2 separate regions of the Homo sapiens genome follow, and region 2 is linked to region 1. The links come from fine-mapping of genetic effects on gene expression. A gene starts in region 1. The other region holds a variant in brackets. All regions are shown on one strand. Distances are between the middles of the regions. Region 1 holds the start of COQ4 (coenzyme Q4). Region 2 has its middle 12 kb from the start of MIR219A2HG.

The links.
Region 2: its variant is fine-mapped to the expression of COQ4 in esophagus mucosa (GTEx, PIP 0.99).

What each region holds. Positions count from the first base shown.
Region 1 is chr9:128,317,789-128,327,687 of GRCh38, forward strand. It overlaps COQ4 (coenzyme Q4), which reads left to right and starts at 5,051. Exons shown (of 7, transcript NM_016035.5): 1 at 5,051-5,140; 2 at 5,228-5,359; 3 at 7,355-7,451; 4 at 7,991-8,093. The coding sequence starts at 5,071. It overlaps TRUB2 (TruB pseudouridine synthase family member 2), which reads right to left and starts at 4,659. Exons shown (of 8, transcript NM_015679.3): 1 at 4,512-4,659; 2 at 3,811-3,942. The coding sequence starts at 4,620. RefSeq lists an enhancer at 4,359-4,898 and a silencer at 5,279-5,338.
Region 2 is chr9:128,400,784-128,410,712 of GRCh38, forward strand. No RefSeq gene overlaps it. Among named protein-coding and RNA genes, the nearest start is that of MIR219A2HG, 12 kb to the left of the region's middle. RefSeq lists an enhancer at 3,974-4,774. The variant C/G (reference allele first, on the strand shown) is at 4,429.

The DNA of each region.
Region 1 (9,899 bases):
ATCTCACAGCACTGTGGTGATATCAATGAGGATTGTACTTGGGGGAAGCTTAACACAATGCCTAGTACAGAGTGGCGACTCAATACATTATACTTCTTATTGTTACCATATAATAGAGTCATTGAATATCACAAGTCCAACGGGTTTTTGAGGTTTCTGGTCAAACCTCTAGATTCCCTGACACATGCCTTAATCACATCTAGTGATGGGGACACATTACCAGAACCAGTTCCATTGTTGGGCAACTTTATTCAGTAAAAAAATCACTCTTTCGGCTGGGCGCAGTGGCTCACACCTGTAATCCCAGCACTTTGGGAGGCCAAGGTGGGCGGATCACCTGAGGTCAGGAGTTCGAGACCAGCCTGGCCAACATGGTGAAACCCCATCTCTACTAAAAATACAAAAATTAGCTGGGTGTGGTGGCACACACCTGTAATCCCAGCTACTTGGGAGGCTGAGGCAAGAGAATAGCTTGAACCTGGGAGATGGAGGTTGCAGTGAGCTGAGATCACACCACTGCACTCCAGACTCCAGCCTGGGCAACAGAGCAAGACTCTGTCAAATAAATAAATAAATAAACTTATTCTTTCCCAGAAACCCAAAACCCCTACCTTAGGACTTCTACCTAGGGTCTCATTTCTCACCTGGAGTCCCAGAATAGAAAAAGGGTCAGCAAACTACAGTCCACAAGTCAAACCTGAAGACTGAAGACTGTTTTTTTTTTGTGTGTGTGTGTTTGCTTGTTTTGTTTTGTTTTGTTTTGAGATGGAGTCTCACTTTGTCACCCAGGCTGGAGTGCAGTGGCGCCATCTCAACTCACTGCAACCTCCACCTCCCAGATTCAAGCGATTCTCATGCCTCAGCCTCCTGAGTAGCTAGGATTACAGGCACCTGCCTCCATACCTAGCTAATTTTTTGTATTTTTAGTAGAGACGGAGTTTCATCATGTTGGCCAGGCTGGTCTTGAACTCTTGACCTCAAGTGATCCGCCTGCCTCGGCCTCCCAAAGTGCTGGGATTACATGAATGAGCCACCGCATCTGGCTTGTTTTTTGTGGCCTATGAGTTAAGAATGGTTTTTGCATTTTTCAGTGGTTCAAAATAAATCAAGAGACCAGTTGCAAGGGCTCACGCTTATAATCCCAGCACTTTGAGACGCCGAGGCAGGCAGATCACTTGAGCCCAGGAGTTCAATACTAGCATGGGCAACGTGACAAAACCCCATCTCTACAAAAAATACAAAAATTAGCCAGGCATGGCCGGGCGTGGTGGCTCACACCTGTAATCCCAGCACTTTGGGAGGCCGAGGCGGGTGGATCACGAGGTCAGGAGATCGAGACTATCCTGCCTAACATGGTGAAACCCCGTCTCTACTAAAAATACAAAAAATTAGCTGGGCGTGGTGGCGGGCGCCTGTAGTCCCAGCTACTCGGGAGGCTGAGGCAGGAGAATGGCGTGAACCCAGGAGGAGAAGCTTGCAGTGAGCCGAGATCGTGCCACTGCACTCCAGCCTGGGCAACAGAGCATGACTCCGTCTCAAAAAAAAAAAAAAAATTAGCCAGGCATAGTGGCCTGTGCCTGTAGTCCCAGCTACTCGGGAGGCTTAGGTGAGAAGACTGCTTGAACTCAGGAGGCAGAGGTTTCAGTGAGCCGAGATCTCACCACTGCCCTCCAGCCTGGGTGACAGAGTGAGACCCTGTCTCTAAATAAATAGAATACTACAGTTGTCCCTTGGTATCCAAGGGGATTGGGTCCAGGATCCCTTGCAGATACCAAAATTTGTAGATGTTCAAGTCCCTGATATAAAATGGCATAGTATTTGCATATAACCTAGGCATGTCGTCCCATATACCTTTTTTTTTTTTTTTTGAGGCAGAGTCTCACTCTTTCACCCAGGCTGGAGTGCAGTGGCACGATCATGGCTCACCACAACCTCTGCCTCCCAGGTTCGTGCGACTCCTCGTAACTCAGCCTCCTGAGTAGCTGGGATTACAGGTACGTGCTATCATGCCCAGCTAATTTTTACTAGAGACGGGGCTTTGCCATGTCTTGAACTCCTGACCTCAAGTGATCCGCCCACCTTGGCCTCCCAAAGTGCAGCGATTACAGGCGTGAGCCACCACACCTGGCCACTTTTTTTTTTTTTGAGACTGAGTCTCGCTGTGTCGCCCAGGCTGGAGTGCAGTGGCACGATCTCCGCTCACTGCAAGCTCCGCCTCCTGGGTTCACGCCATTCTCCTGCCTCAGCCTCTGGAGTAGCTGGGACTACAGGCGCCCACCACCACGCCCGGCTAATTTCTTTGTATTTTTAGTAGAGACAGGGTATCACCGTATTAGCCAGGATGGTCTCGATTTCCTGACCTCGTGATCCGCCCACCTCAGCCTCTTTATTTTTTTTGGAGACAGAGTCTCACTCTGTCACCCAGGCTGGAGTGCACTGGCACAGTCTCGGCTCACTGCAGCCTCTGAACTCCTGGGCTCAAGTGATTCTCCCACCTCAACCTCCCGAGTAGCTGGAACTACAGGCATATGCCACCCCACCTGGCTAATTTTTTTTTTTTTTTGAGACAGTTTCACTCTTATTGTCCAGGCTAGAGTGCAATGGCACAACCTAAGCTCACCGCAACCTCCGACTCCCGGGTTCAAGCAATTCTCCTGCCTCAGCCTCCTGAGAACCTGGGATTATAGGCATGTGCCACCACACCTGTCTAATTTTGTATTTTTAGTAGAGACGGGGTTTCTCCATGTTGGCCAGGCTGGTCTCGAACTCCCGACCTCAGGTGATCTGCTCGCCTCAGCCTCCCAAAGTGCTGGGATTACAGGTGTGAGCCACTGCACCCGGCCTTTTGTATTCTCTTGTAGAAGTAGGGTTTCCCCATGTTGCCCAGGCTGATGTTAAACTCCTAGGCTCAAGTAATCCACCGCCTCAGCTTCCCAAAGTGCTGGGATTACAAGCATGAGCCACCAGGCCTGGCCTTCCCATATATTTTAAATCATCTCTAGATTACCTTTTTTTTTTTGAGACGGAGTCTCGCTCTGTTGCCAGGCTGGCGTGCAGTGGCACAATTTCGGCTCACTGCAACCTCCGCCTCCCGGGTTCAAGTGATTCTCCTGCCTCAGCCTCCTGAGCAACTGGGACTACAGGCGCCTGCCACCACTCCCGGCTAATTTTTGTATTTTTAGTAGAGACGGGGTTTCACCATGTTGGCCAGGATGGTCTCGATCTCTTGACCTCATGATCCACCCTCCTCGGCCTCTCAAAATGCTGGGATTACAGGCGTGAGCCACCACGCCTAGCTAGATTACTTATAATGCCTAATATAATGCCTATGCATCACCTTGAGTGGATTCAACACAGTACTAGGTGCACAGCAAATTCAAGTTTTGCTTTTTGGAACTTTGTGTTTTTCTTCCCAAATACTGCCAATCTGAAGCTGGATCATGGGATGTGGAACTCATGGACTCAGAGGCAACTGTACTTAGTGACACGTGAAAATTACCTGAAGTTCAAATATGAATATTCATAAAGTTCTATTGGAATACAGCTAGGCTCATTCCTTTAGATACTGTCTATAGCTGTTTGGCACTACATTGGCAGAGTTGAGCAGTTCCAACGGAAATCACATGGCCTGAAAACTAAAACATTCAGTATCTGGCCCTTTCCAAGGAAATCTGCCAATTCCTGGTCTAATACCTCACTCCTCTGTGGACCTTCAAGGGCCTGGCACAGGAATCTGAGCACTGGGACACTGACTCGGCTCAGGGATTTCCTGGGAAGTGACACACAGGATCCTGCTTAAATCTGCCTTACCCAGTGGATGGTTGATGAAAGAGGGTACGCTGGTGGCTGTGAGGGTCAGCTCCTTCTCTTCGCTGCCTTCCATGGGGCCCAGCAAGAAGCGAACACGCTGTTTAGGAGCGGGAGGCTTCCTGGCATTGAGACCTGAACACACAGAGATAATATATACACACATACATACAAATATATGTACATATAAAATATTTTTTAAGAGACAGGGCCTCGTTCTGTAGCCCAGGCTGAAGTGCAATGGCGCCATCATAGCTCACTGTAACGTCAAACTCTTGGGCTCAAGCGATCCTCCTGCCTCAGCCTCCAGAGTAGCTGGGATTACAGGCGTGCACCACGATGCTGACCAGGAATATCTTGTTCTGTCCAAACACTTGGGGGATTAGACAACAGGGAAGTATGATGTAGAAGACAAAGCAGAAGCCCATGGTGCAGAGGGCAGTATAGCAGTAGTTAAGAAACAGGCGGATTCAAACAGACTCTACAACGTAGTAACCGTGTGACAAGGAACAATACTGAGTCAGTTTCCCCCTCGGAAAACAGAGGAAAGTGAGGAGTAAGAAAGCACAGAGAACAGGCGTTTGGGAAAGCGCTCTGCCCAGGTGAATAGGTCACGTGATTTTGTTTTGGGGTAAGGACCAGAAGCGGAGATGGACTTCCAAGAGAACGAGAGCGGGAACGTGGGTCTGGTTCGAGGCACTCACCCTTCAGAAGTTGTAGCTCCACTGTATCCCGCAGGTGCTTCCATTTTAGCCCCGGGGGCTTATAGACCGCGAAAAGCCCATGCAGCCGCGACAAGCCAGCAGACCCCATACTTGAAGATCACAGCACCCGCTGGACCTGGACGGAAGTACCGCCAGGCCCCGCCCCCAAATGTGGTCCTTTCCACGGGCGCCGCCATGTTCCACAGCCGGAAGAGGTTCGCATTTTATAGTCTTCGGGGAAAACCGGCTGTGGAGAAGGAAATAGGGCCCGGCGCTGAGTGAGCGTGGTTGCGTGTCCTTTGCAGACACTTTCTGGGGCGAGGTGACATGGCGAGAGTCTTGGATCGGTGGACGTAGACGGTAGACAGTTCGCGTGCGTTTCCTTCGCCTACTTGGCCTACATGCCTTCTGCCCGTGAAGCGATGTTTCCCCTCGAAAGGCCGTAGGCTACGCCGTCAGAATCGGTTTTTCAGTGAGTTTTGACCCCTCCGACGCTCCGTCGCCTGACAGAATCGCGGCGTTCTTCGTACCCGCCCATCCTCCGCGGACGCCCGCTGCCATGGCGACTCTGCTGCGCCCTGTCCTCCGTCGGCTCTGCGGGCTCCCGGGCCTACAGCGGCCTGCGGCAGGCAAGTGGCGCCGGGTTCTGGGCGCAGGCGGGAAGGAGCCTGAGGGCGCCCGGCTCCTCTGACCTCGGCCTTTTTCTTGCCCCGCAGAAATGCCCCTCCGGGCTAGGAGCGACGGCGCCGGCCCGCTATACTCGCACCACCTCCCCACCTCCCCGCTGCAGAAAGGGCTGTTGGCCGCCGGCTCCGCGGCGATGGCGCTCTATAACCCCTACCGCCACGGTAAGGCCGCCCGCGCCTCGCCCCCGTGGGGGCGGCTTGGAGCCGTTTCCTGTGGGTAACTGGAACATAGCCTAGGTCGGGGTACCCAAACCTGGTTGCAGCTCGTAACCACTCGGAACGTTTATGAAAATGCAGATTCCTGGATCCCACCTAAACGCACTGAATCTGAATCTGAATCTGCAGTGGAGGGAGAAATGGGCGTGAAACCGAAAGTCTGTCTTTAAACTACTTGGGAGAATCTGTCATGCAGCCATATTGAGAACATCTAGACTAAATAGATGATTCATAAGTACCGATCAGTTTATAATATCCTACTAGAAAGTCAACTCCGAGGTCGAGGACCATGTCTGCCTCGTTCCACTGCATCTGCAGCCTTCTGGATAGTGCCTGGCACATAGTAAATGCTCAATAAATGTTTGCTGGATGTGTGACTAGAACATTCTAGGGTTCTACAGTGTTTTTCTTATGCCTCCTAGATTTTTGAGTTCTGGGAAGTACTGTTATTCCTACTAACAAAAACAGGCTAGGCGCTATTATAGTGGCTCACGCCTATAATCCCTATCGGGGGGCCGAAGCGGGCAGATGGCTTGAGCTGAGGAGTTTGAAACCAGCCTGGGCAACACGGTGAATCCCCATCTCTACAAAAAAAAATACAAGAATTAATTGGGGCTGGTTGCATGCGGCTGTATTCCCAGGCTGAGGTGGAAGGACCATTTGAGCCGGGGAGTTCGAGACTGCAGTAAGTTGTGATTGCGCCATTGCACTCCAGCCTGGGCGACAGAGCGAGACCCTGTCTTAAACAAAAAATACACTATATCTCCATGTCCCCAGTGGTTTTTTGTTTGTTTTGTTTTGAGACACAGTATTGCTCTGTGGCCCACGCTGGAGTGCAGTGGCGCAATCTCAGCTCTATGCAACTTCCACCTCCCAGGTTCAAGCGATTCTCGTGCCTCAGCCTCCTGAGTAGCTGGGATTACAGGCCTGTGCGGCCTGGCTAATTGTTGTATTTTTAGTAGAGACGGGATTTTGCTATGTTGCCCAGGCTGGTCTCAAACTCCTGACTTCAGGTGATCCTCCCACCTCGGCCTCCCAAAGTGTTGGGATTACAGGCATGAGCCACCACGCCCGGCCAAGACCAGCGAATTTTTTAATTTTTTTGTAGAGACGGCGTCTTGCCACGTTGCCCAGGCTGCTCTGGAACTCTTGGCCTCAAGTGATCCTCCTGCCTCAGCCCCCCAGTGTTGAGATTACAGGTGTCAGCCGCTACACTTGGCCACTAAGTGTTATATATATATGATTTTCATGGTTTCTCACATTAACCAGCTAAGAAAGGTGTTGTCTGCACTTCACAAATTAAGACACTGAGGCTGAAAAATGTGAAGCAGGCCAGGCATGGTGGCTCACACCTGTAATCCCAGCAATTTGGGAATCCAAGGTGGGAGGATCACTTGGGGCCAAAGTTCAAGACCAGCCTGGGCAACATAGCAAGACCTCATCTCTACAGAAAATTTAAAAAACTAGCTGCATGCCTGTAGTCCTAGCAGTGAGCTATGATCACACCACTTCACTCCAGCCTGGGCAACAGAGCAAGACCCTGTCTCAAAAAAACAAAACAAAACAGAAATGTGAAGCAATTTGTACTAGGTCACCTAGATAGTGAACACACCTGGACTGTAGCCCAGCATCTCTGATGCCTAAGCCTCTACCAATCAATGGAGACATGATATTGTATTGTGAAAAGTGATTTATAAAATCTTTACAACGTTGTGCTAACTAGAGCTGTCCCGCCCCAGTAGATTAAGAATAAGAACTATAGATATGTATACTGATCCCTTGTTGTGTGCTGGGTAATTTGCTAAGTGTTTAGCCTGAATCCTTATAACAAAGAGCTAGACATCATCCCTAATTTATCCTGTAGGAAACAAAGGCTCAGACCAGGTCAGCTAACTTACCTAAGATGACATCCCCCATTTGTGCCCGTTTCTGTCCTTTCAGACATGGTCGCAGTTCTAGGGGAGACCACAGGACACCGCACCCTGAAGGTCCTCAGGGACCAGATGAGGAGGGATCCAGAGGGTGCCCAGATCCTGCAGTAGGTCCCAGCTCTGCCTGGGGGTCTGGGGGCATTCTCTAGGTATTCTGACCTCTCTAGAATCACATTGTGTTTGTTCTGTTCCGCTAGGGAGCTTTTGATACCCTGGCTACATATGGTTGCACAGGCTGGGCACTGCCCAATTCCAGGGGTGTCATTCACATACATGTGTATACACTGATGACTTCCGAGTTGTGCAGTGTGATAGCCTTGGCCCAGTTTCAACCACAGGGCTCTGTGCCTTCATTAAGTTCCCATAACATGTGCTGGCTTTACCCCTCCCTTGCAGTACCTTTTGCAAGTACTCTGGTCACATTCGAGGACTGTCTTCCTGCCGAGATTGTACCCCTGCCCATGTCCTTGGTTTGGGGTAGTATCCTAAGTCCCTGACACTAGCCTGGCCAGTTGTAGGTGCTCCATTAAGGCTTGTGGTGGCCACATTGCTCCTCTGTACATTCTCCCGCCCCTCAGCTCGCTGTAGTTGGATCGTTCACCTACCTTTGCCCACACCCTCCCAATGCCCAAGTCTTGCCTTTCAGGGAGCGTCCCCGGATTTCGACATCCACCCTCGACCTGGGCAAGCTCCAGAGCCTGCCGGAAGGCTCCCTCGGTCGCGAGTATCTCCGTTTCCTGGATGTGAACGTGAGTTTTCAGCTCCTGTGTATCTGGCAGTCACCAGACAGGACAGAGGAATAGCACAGGCATGACACCCTGAGGAAAGAGGAGCCCTGAGCTGCCACCATTGGCAGGAGTGCTCTTCAGGCTCATGCCAAGGCTTTGTCATTTTCTATGGGATAGGCAAATGGGTGGGAACATGCCTGCAATTGATAATACTGGCCAGTGTTCATTAACCTCGCACTGCATGCCTGATGCCAGCCTCATCCGTGATCTTGCTGAATCCCCCCACAACTCTGTCAAGTATGTTCTATTATTATCCTCTTTTAGCAGATAAGGAAACAGAGGCTCAGAGCAGTGAAGCAAACTTGCTAATTCCACATAACTGGTATTAATGGAGATAGTAATCAATCCCAGATCATGCTCTTCACTGCTGTACTGTATCCCTTTATTCCAGGGACATTGCTTTCCCTACGGTATGGCAGGTGTGGCACTCTCCAGCCCCTCCAGCCCCAGGCAGGGAGGACAAGGAGAGGGGGAAAGGGGGTGTCCCGACTATTGGCAAACTCATTCACTAACTGAGGCTCTGCTATGTGCCATCCCTTTTTTTTTTTGAGTCGCTCTGTCGCCCAGGCTAGAGTGCAGTGGTGCGATCTCTGCTCACTGCAAGCTCCGCCTCCCAGGTACACGCCATTCTCCTGCCTCAGCCTCCCGAGTAGCTGGGACTACAGGCGCCCGCCACGACGCCCGGCTAATTTTTTGTATTTTTTAGTAGAGACGGGGTTTCACCGTGCTAGCCAGGATGGTCTCGATCTCCTGACCACGTGATCCGCCCGCATCAGCCTCCCAAAGTGCTGGGATTACAGGCGTGAGCCACAGCGCCCGGCCCATCCTTTTTGTTTTGTTTTGTTTTGAGACAGGGTCCCGCTCTGCCACCCAGGCTGGAGTGCAGTGGCGCCGTCTCGGCTCACTGCAACTCAGCTTCCTGGGTTCAAGCGATTCTCCTGCCTCAACCCCCCACGTAGCTGGGACTACAGGTGCACACCACAACGCCCAGCTAATTTTTGTACTTTTAGTAGAGAGGGGTTTTACCATATTAACCAGGCTGGTCTTGAACTCCTGACCTCAAGTGATCCACCTGCCTCAGCCTCCCAAAATGCTGGGACTACAGGTGTGAGCCACCGTGCCCAGCCCAACCATTGTTTTGTGTACAGGGGATATAATGGTGAACTAGACAGCCAAGTTCCCTGCCCTCATTTCTATTCTACTTCGAGAGGTAGACAATAAAATAGTTTTTAAAAATTTTCAGGGAAGGCACAGTGGCTCACATCTGTAATCCCAGCACTTTGGGAGGCTGGCGGGAGGACCACCTAAGGTCAGGAGTTTGAGACCAGTCTGACCAACATGGTGGAAACCTGTCTCTACTAAAAATACAAAAATTAGCTAGGTGTGATGGTGTGCGCCTGTAATCCCAGCTACTCGGGAGGCTGAGGCAGGAGAATTGATTGAACCCGGGAGGCACAGGTTGCAGTGAGCTGAGATCACACCACTGCACTCCAGCCTGGGCGACAGAGTGAGACTCTGTCTCCAACAAAACAAAACAAAAAAATTCATATAAAAATACAGGTAAAATGTTTCAAGTAATTAGAATATTCTGGCACTGGTCCATGCGTGTTGGCTCATGCCTGTAATCCTAATACTTTGGGGGGCTGAAGTGGGCGGATCACTTGAGCCCAGGAGTTTGAGACCAGCCTGGACAACATGGTGAAACCCTGTCTCTGCAAAAAATGCAAAAATTAGCCAAGTGTGGTGGTGTATACCCATAGTCCCAGC
Region 2 (9,929 bases), 83 kb after region 1:
GCCTCCCGGGTTCAAGCAGTTATCCTGCCTCAGCCTCCCGAGTAGCTGGGACTACAGTGGCCTGCCACCACACCCGTCTAATTTTTGTATTTTTAGTAGTGACAGGGTTTCACCATGTTGGCCAGGCTGGTCTCAAACTCCTGACCTCAGGTGATCCGCCCACCTCAGCCTCCCAAAGTGCTGGGATTACAGGCGTGAGCCACCGCGCCCGGCTGGAAGGTGCTAAATTTTTGTTTTTCTTTCTTTTTTCCTTTTCTTTTTTTTGAGACGGAGTCTCACTCTGTCACCCAGGCTGGAGTGCAGTGGCGCGATCTCGGCTCACTGCAAGCTCCGCCTCCTGGGTTCACGCCATTCTCCTGCCTCAGCCTCCCGAGTAGCCGGGACAACAGGCGCCCACCACCACACGTGGCTAACTTTTTGTACTTTTAATAGAGATGGGGTTTCACCGTGTTAGCCAGGATGATCTCGATCTCCTAACCTCATGATCCACCCGCCTCGGCCTCCCAAAGTGCTGGGATTACAGGCGTGAGCCACCACGCCCGGCCGGAAGGTGCTGTTTTATTAAATACCTGGGTCAAGGAATAAATAGATACATGGACCATTGTAATCTGGACCATTGTAATCTAGTTAGCAACAACTACCATATATTAAGCACTGAGCACTGGGCTAAGCGCTTGACATGCATCACTACAGCCCTTCAGAGAAATTCTATCACTCTCCGCATTTTACCCACTAGGAACCTGAGGCCAAGAGAGAGCAAGCAACTTCCCCCAGGTACAGAGCTCCTGAATGACAGAGATAGGTTTTATTGATTTCAATTAATCTTTTTTTTTTTTTTTTTGAGACAGAATTTCGCTCTTGTTGCCCAGGCTAGAGTGCAGTGGTGTGATCTCGGCTCACTGCAACCTCTGCCTCCTGGGTGCCTCATCCTCCCAAGTAGCTGGGATTACAGGCATGTGCCACCACGCCTAGCTAATTTTGTATTTTTAGTAGAGACAGGGTTTCACTGTGTTGGTCAGGCTAGTCTTGAACTCCTGACCTCAGGTGATCCACCCGCCTCAGCCTTTCAAAGTGCTGGGATTACAGGCATGAGCCACCGCACCCAGTGTCAATTAATTATTATTATTTTTAATAGAGATGGGGTCCCAGGCCGGGCACGGTGGCTTGTGCCTGTAATCCCATCACTTTGGGAGGCCGAGGCAGGTGGATTGCTTGAGCTCAGGAGTTCAAGACCAGTGTGGCCAACATGGTGAAACCCCGTTTCTACCAAAAAATAAAAAAAATAACTGGGTGTGTTGGTGGGCACCCGTAATCCCAGCTACTCTGGAGGCTGAGGTGGGAGAATTGCTTGAACCCAGGAAGTGGAGGTTGCAATGAGTGTAGATCTCGTCACTGCATTGCAGCCTGGGCATCAGAGTGAGACTCTGTCTAAAAAGAAAGAAAGAGAGATCCTTCCTGGCTAACACGATGAAACCCTGTCTCTACTAAAAATACAAAAAAATTAGCCAGGCGTGGTGGAGGGCGCCTGTAGTCCCAGCTACTCTGGAGGCTGAGGCAGAAGAATGGCATGAACCTGGGAGGCGGAGCTTGTAGTGAGCCGAGATCGCACCACTGGACTCTAGCCTGGGCGACAGAGCGAGACTCCGTCTCAAAAAAAATAATAAAAAAGAGAGATGAGGTCTTGCTATGTTGCCTAGACTGGTCCTAAACTCCTAGGCTCAAGTGATCTTCCCACCTCTGCTTCCCAAAGTGTTGGTATTATAGTTGTGAGCCACCACGCCCTGCCAAGAGCTAGAGTTTTGGTTTTTTTTTTTTTTTTTTTTGAGATGGAGTTTCGCTCTTGTTGCCCAGGCTGGAGTGCAATGGCATGATCTTGGCTCACTGCAACCTCCACCTCCCAGGTTCAAGCTATTCTCCTGCCTCAACCTCCCAAGTAGCTGGGATTACAGCCATGTGCCATCACGCCCAACTAATTTTGTATTTTTAGTAGAGACGAGGTTTCTCCATGTTGGTCAGACTGGTCTTGAACTCCTGATCTCAGGTGATCTGCCCACCTCAGCCTCCCAAAGTGCTGGGATTACAGGCATGAGCCACCACACCCGGCCCTAGGTTTGTTTTAGACCTAAGTCTGCGTATCTGCAAAGACCACATTCTTCAATACTTCACCACCTCACTCCTCTTACTCTATTGCCCCAGTACCCAGTGAAGTAGGAACCATTGGAAGTTAAGGAGTTGGGACTCACGAGAGTTCAAGACCATCCTGGACAACATAGTGGGAACCCATCTCTGCAAAAAAAAAAAATTAGCTGGGCATGGTGATGGGTGCCTGTAGTCCCAGCTGCTTGGGAGGCTGAGGCAGAAGGATCACTTGAGTCTAGGAGGTTGAGGCTGCAGTGAGCCATGAGTGTGCCACTGCACTCCAGCCTGGGTGACAGAGAGAAACCATGTCTAAAAAATAATAATAATTGGGACTTAGACATACTGTATAATTCCATTTACATGAAATATCCAGAATAGGCAAATCTATTGAGACAGAAAGCAGATTAGTGGTTGCCTAGGGCTGGGGAGAAGGGCAGTTGGGGAGAAATGGGGAATGATGGCTAATGAGTATGGGCTTTCTTTCTTTCTTTCTTTTTTTGAGATGGAGTCTCACTCTGTCATGCAGGCTGGAGTGCAGTGGTGCGATCTCAGCTCACTGCAACCTCCGTCTCCTGGGTTCAAGCAATTCTCCTTGCCTCAACCTCCCGAGTAGCTGGGATTACAAGTGCCCACCACCACGCCCTGCTAATTTTTGTATTTTTCTAGTAGAGATGTAGTTTCACCATGTTGCCCAGGCTGATCTTGAACTCTTGACCTCAGGTGATCAGCCCACCTTGACCTCCCAAAGTGCTGGGATTACAGGTGTGAGCCACCACGCCCAGCCTGAGTATGGGCTTTCTTTTCAAAATAATGAAAATATAAAATGGCTTGTTGTGATGGTTGCACAATTCTTGAATATACTAAAAGCTGTTGAATGATACACTTTAAGTAGGCAAATTGCATGGCATGTGAATTACATCTCAACAATGCTGTTATGAAAAAAAAAGAGGCCGGGCACAGTGGCTCACACCTGTAATCCTAGCACTGGCCGAAGCGGCTCACACCTGTAATCCCAGCACTGGCCGAAGCGGGTGGATCATGAGGTCAGGAGATCGACACCATCCTGGCTAACACGGTGAAATCCCATCTCTACTAAAAATACAAACAATTAGCTGGGCATGGTGGTGGGCACCTGTAGTCCCAGCTACTCCGGAGGCTGAGGCAGGAGAATGGCGTGAACCCGGGAGGCGGAGGTTGCAATGAGCCAAGATCCCGCCACTCTGCCACTGCACTCCAGCCTGGGTGACAGAGCAAGACTCCATCTCAAAAAAAAAAAAAAAAAGATAAAAAGAGAGGGATGGGGCTCAGGAATCCCACCTCTGCCACTTACCTGCTTGGCACATGACTTCATACCTCCCAACCTCAGCTTCCTTAACCAATAAAATAGGAAAAATAAACATCTCCTGGGTCTTTTGTGAGGATTAAATGAGATAATACATATTATTATTCCCATTTTATCAAGGAGGAAACAGGCCCAGAGAAGGGAAGTGACTTGGGTGCAGATGGCACAGCTGGTGGGTGGCAGGTGAGAGACTCAGGCCTGGGTCTCATGGCACCACCCCATCTTTTAGCATTGTGTAGAGTGGACCAGTGTCTGCACACTCCACCCACCCCTTCACCAACACTCTCTTCCATCTCCCTCCTTCTCTTGGGCTCTGGGGCCCTGTCTCCCCACTGCTCACGCTCAGAACAAGTGGAGGTGGCTGAGTCCCCCCAGAGCACAGGACACCCTCTCCCCCAGCCCCCACCCTGCTCCCCTCCTGGGGCCATGATGCTGTCTTGCTTTTGCTTGTAATAAAGAAAATATCTCAGCTACCCTTCCATGGTTGCTTGGCAACCCCGAGGGGGGTTGGGTGGGGGGGACCAAGGGGAGGAGGGATGGGGGAGGATTCTGGAGCCAATCTGGAGACAAAGAGTAGGATTTGGGTGACATGGAGCCTGTTCTTAGTGCTAACCTGGCCTGGCTGGGGCGGCGGGTGGGGGCAGCGGGCTTCCTCCCACCCCAGTGTCTCACACCAATAAATATGGATTAGGGAAATGGGCTGAGTTTTTCCCACGGGCCTGAAAGGCCGCATCTGACCTTTCTACCCCCTTTATGTACCAATGTGACAGTCAGAGACAGCAAAGAGCAGGACCCCCTGAGATGCCTCCCCCATGGCCTTCTGACTTGGGGAAACTTTTCACCCTCCTCCTTCCCCTGGCCACAGACCAGGTCACAGCTCTGCCTGGGCCCTTGTTCCGGGGATGAGAAGGAGGCTGGTTTCCAGGTGGGCGCCAGGAGCTCCCATC[C/G]TCAGTGTCCACTCCGGGCCCTGCTGGCCGTGACCGGTGCAGAGCCAGGCTGTGAGGCCCTGGACTGGTTAGTGACGGCCCTGCCTGCCTCCTAGACAGTCCTCTGCTCTGTGGCTCCCCCATCCTGTCCCTGCCCCATCTCTGCCTGGGCCGCCTCCATCAGGAGCCCTATCGTCCGTGTCCCTTTGCGTCCCTCTCCTCAGATACTTCCCACCACCCTCTTCTCGACTTGGTTTCCCTCTTTCTCTCCTCCTGCCAGCCCCCCACGCCCCAGTCGTCCATGAAACTAGGAAGCCCTTGTGGCTGAGGTATCTCCTGCAGTGAAGAGGGCAGGAAGGGTTGTGGAGGGGGAGGTGGGGGCCGTGATCTCACTCCCTGGTGCCCTGACTTTCTGGTCGTTGGCCGGGGGTGGGGATCGGCTGCTCTGAATGGAGTCAGTGTAGAGGCAGGAAAAGCAAACACCTCCGTGTGGGCCCTGCTGGCAGTGGATGGGAGCGGTCGGGGGGCAGGGGCCTGGGCTCCTCTCAGCCTCCTTGATCAGACCTCTCCCCACTCCTGAGGCTCCCTGTCTTCCTGGACCTTTGGCCTACAGTGTCCAGAAGGAGAGTGGGGTGAAGGTTTAGGGGGAAGCCCTCTGGGAGACGTCTTTGCTCAAATCTTTCCCTGCTCCTCTGCCCAACCCCCAGCCAGTGCCCTTCCTGCCCAGCAGATGCCAGGAAAATCTGTGCCCGGGAAGGGCGGTCTGGCACCTGAGGGCCCCGCCTGACCAGTCCTTCTCAGCAGCAGGAGCTGGGTGGGAGTCACCTTATGCCAGAGACGCCCCAGCAGTGCCATCCACCTCCTGGGCTGAGGAGTACCCCCAAGAGGCTCTGCCCGGGTGAGTGCTCCTCTGGCCCCACAGCCAGGCAGTGAGGGAGGGAGAGGTTGTCCATGTCGGGGCTCCCCAAGACCCCCACAATCTCCGTGAGTCCTCATGGTTCTGTGGCCTTTTCTGTTGTGACTGTCTCACCCTCTGTCTGGGACTCGTGTGTCACTGATGGTTTGGTGAGGGGAGCTGAAGGGATGGTTAGAGAAGCTGGAGGAGAGGGCTGGGAATGTGAGGAGGTAGGAGGGGCTGGAGTCTAGGGTATAGGACTCCTGGATTCCCAGCCAGGTTTTTGTGTTTTATTTTTATTTGTATGATTTTTAAATTTCTGTTTTAAAAGATGAGGTCTCTCTTGCATGGAATATATCTTTATATTAAAAAAAAAAAAAAAAAGATAAGGTCTCACTATGTTGCCCAGGCTGGTCTTGAACTCCTGGGCTCAAGCAATCCTCCCACCTCAGCCTCCCTAAATGCTGTGATTACAGGCCTGAGCTACCGCACCCAGCCTAGCCAACTTTCTGATTAGATTTGTGAAATCACAGAGGCTGCTGTAATGGTTTCCTTTTAACACTTTGGATTCTAAAAGACCTTTGGAATGAGCTCAGAGAGAGTTAGCAGTTCATCCCGGGTGACACAGCAAACTGCTGGTACTCAAACCCACCAGGCCCCCTCATCACACCGCAGGCTGTTTGTGTTATGGAAGCCATCTTTGACCACCTCTCTCTTTCCCTCTCCACATGCAGTTTCCCCCTGAATTTAAGAGGCTGAGGGGTGGAGGGAGCCGACTCTGCCTAGCACCTCCAGGCCTTTCCTTTCTGTTGTCTCTCCAGGCACCATGCCCAGGGCCCAGCCTAGTAGCAGGAGCAGCCCCTGCCTGGGCCTCAGAGCGCCACAATCTCCTCTGACTATCCCTGGGAAGCCGTGGTTGGCTTTTGCCTTACATCCCCCAGAGAATGGCGTCTTTGTTCTTGGTGTCTAACCATAGTCCCTCATGTTGTCTTTAAAGCCCAACCACTTCCCAAAAAGCAAGGTCAACAGCTGACTGCATACCACAGCACCCCAGTGGTTCCTGCTTTGAGGTGGGACCTGGCTGGGGGGACCCTGCCGAGTAGAAACAGGCATTCCTCACTGGGTCAGGCTCTGTTCTGAGGTCGTCCACGTACCTTGCTGAATGGTGGTCACCACATTCCTGCAGTGTGGAGTCAGTTTTACAGATTGGAAAACTGAGACACGGAGCATTGAAGTGACTCATCTGTGGACACACTGCGAGAAAAAGAGCTGGGATTCAAGCCCATAGCTTGGCTGCAGAGCCCAATCCCTTAAACGTTCTTCCATAGTGCCTCTGATTCCTAGGAGGCCTCCGCTGGAGGTCATTGCATTCAATCCCCTGCATCTGGATGTCTACCCAGGCCCACCTCTGTTCACAGATAAAAATCAATCAAGCTTTTTTTTAAATAAACTTTATTTTTATTTTTTGAGACACAGTCTCACCCTGTCGCCCAGGCTGGAGTGAATGGCCACCATGCTTGGCTGATTTTTGTATTTTTTGTAGAGATGGAGTTTTGCCATGTTGCCCAGGCTGGTCTTGAGCTCCTGGGCTTAAGTGATCCACCTGCCTCAGCCTCCCAAAGTGCTGGGATTACAGGCGGGAGCCTCCCAAAGTGCTTGTCCAACCTCGTTTTTAAAGGCAACTGCAGCTGGGCACAGTGGTTCACGCCTGTAATCCCAGCACTTTGGGAGGCCAAGGAGGGCTGATCACAAGGTCAGGAGTTGAGAGACCAGCCTGGCCAATATGGTGAAACTCCATCTCTACTAAAAATACAAAAATTAGCCAGGCGTAGTGGCGGGTGCCTGTAGTCCCAGCTACTCGGGAGGCTGAGGCAGGAGAATCGCTTGAACCCGGGAGGTGGAGGTTGCAGTGAGCCAAGTTCGCGCCACTGCACTCCAGCCTGGGTGACAGAGCGAGATTCTGTCTCAAAAAATAAATAAATAAATAAATAAATAAATAAATAAATAAAGGCACCTGCTCCAAGGATGGAATTTCCCCTGGGGATAAGCAGACATTTCTTTATTCATAGCCTTCTGGCAGGGAGGGAAGACCCTCCCAGCCAGAACTCACCATGTCCAGCTGCCTCGTTGTTCCTCTCTCCTTCCCACTGGAGTATAATTTCAGGAAGGAAGCGGCTCCGCCTTGAGTATTGGCTCCACAACCTCCAGGCTGTGTGGCGTTGGACAAATGACTGAACTTCTCTGAGCCTTAGCTTATCAAGTGTAAAGTGGAGCTAATTATACATCTGCTTTGTGAGTCTGAAAAAGTTTACATGATAAAAGGGTATGAAGGTCTGAAAGGGCTTAGTGAGCACAGTGCCTGGCACCTCTGAAGTGCACAGGACCAAGTGGCAAATACTTCTCACTGCATCCTGAGGGGTCGTTCCCAGACCCTGAGATCCCACCCAGCCACAGCCAAGTCACCTTCTGGGTTGTCTTACTTAGCCATGGGATTGTCCCTGTTCCCCTGTCCCCTCCCTAGTCCGGGTTCTGGCCTCAAGAAAGAAGGCCCTAGGGGTAAAGGAGTTGGAGGAGGGGGGCTTGGCAGCACCACCATCACCACTGTCATCATCCTCATTGAAACTCTTCTACCTGCAAGATCAGAGCCTCGTGCTTTTGGCCTTATAGTTTAGCCTTCTTACTACAGATAGGGAAACTGAGGCCCACAGTGGGGAAGGACTTGCTCAGGGTCACGTAGCAAATTGGTGGTGGAGCAGGAACTAGCTCTCAGTCCTCCACATTCCCGGTTGGTTTCCCCTGTCTCTTCTTGATGACTGCCCACCTCAAGTCCTCCCCTGGTGTGCCTAGGGTGTGGGGCCTGGCACCCAGTCCTGCCTGGCAGAGCCTGGAGAGAAGTGAGCCGCGGTTGGTGGAGTAGTCGCAGCGGCCCGGCGCGTTCTCAGCCCGGCTCTTTGTCTGCTGCTTTGTGATGGTAAGTGCTGCTCCTAAATCAGTTCTGTGACACTGTTATTGTTGCCCAGGGCGCAAAGAGTCTAAACTTTTCCCCTGAGGTCAAGAATGTGGCTGGTCCCCAAGCCGCCCAGAGCAGAGGCCTGGGTGGCTGGGGGTGGGGATGGGGCCTCGCCCCGAGCTGGGGCGAGATGTTGGGGGGAGGGGGTCAGCGGGAACAAAACGCTTTGAAATGCCTCCTCTCCATCACTGCCAACATTGTCCGCTGCCCGCGGGGGGCCTGGCACCGCCTCGCCGGGGCTCCGGCCCCCAGCCCTGGCCAGGCGCGGCCCGACATCTGAAAATGGACAGAAGGTTATTGTCCCTTCCCGCAGCCCTTTGTCTGCCCCAGTTCCAGATGTCTAGGCTGGGACCAGGGAACTGACCCATGGTGGGCAGGGGGGAGAGGACAAAAAGGGAGAGCACGGGTCACTGCATCCTGAGGGGTCGTTCCCAGACCCTGAGATCCCACCCAGCCACAGCCAAGTCACCTTCTGGGTTGTCTTAGCCCTGAGATTGTCCCTGTTCCCCTGTCCCCTCCCTACTCCAGGTTCTGGCCTCGAGAGAGAAGGCCCTAGGGGTACAGGAGTCAGAGCAGGGGACCTTGGCAGACTCACGGACGGGGCTGAATCCAGCTCCACCCGGTAACTGTGTGATCTTGGACAGGTGTGGCCCTCTCCCAGCCTGCTTTCCCCATGTGGGGACCACGGACCAGGTTCATTCACAGGTAATGATGGAGCCCTCCTACGTACCAGCTCTGAGCTGAGCATGGGGGCACGCGGTGGTGCATGGGCCACTTGGATCCTGCCCTTGACCATTGTGGTTAAATAGAAGAGTAACAGGCAGCATTTCCCACCCACTACCTCTGGGTCAGGTCCTGGGCTAATCACTTCATCTGCGTCATCTCATCCTTTCCATAACAAAATCAAAGATGCAGAGGCGTTTTTCCTGTCTCCATTTTGCAGCTTTGGAGACTGCTAGACTCTTGAGAGGTCCAGTCACTTGCCCAAAGCCAGGCAGTCTGGAGGCAGCAGAGCTGGGATTCTAGCCCAGGCCGACCGTAGCCACCAGGAGGAGTAATTCGCTAATAAATACTTGGAAAGAATCGAGCACAGAACCTGACACAGCTCCAGACTCAGAACTGGTGGTGTTTACTCCATGCATAGAGTGTCCCCATTCCACAGGTGGGGCGACTGAGGACAGGGAGAGAAAGCCTGGGGCAAAAAGCTCCAGGGAACTTAAACAGTAACACCAACAGCAGTTCCAGAGTCACCAGGGCTGGCCAGAGTGAGACAGGCAGACTTGGTTTCAAACCCCAAACCCCAACTCTGGATGAGCTTGGCAAGTGATTTATTTAGATTCTCCGTGCCTCAGTTTCAAGGTTTCCTCTTCTGTAAAATAAAAATATTCCCAACTGGCCAGGCATGGTGGCTCACACCTATAATCCCAGCATTTTGGGAGGCCAAGGCGGGCAGATCACTTGAGGTCAGGAGTTCAAAACCAGCCTGGTCAACATGGTGAAACCTCATCTCTACTAAAAATACAAAAATTAGCTGGGCCTGGTGGCACGTGCCTGTCATCCCAGCTACTTGGGAAACTGAGGCAGGAGAATTGCTTGAACCAGGGAGGTAGAGGTTGC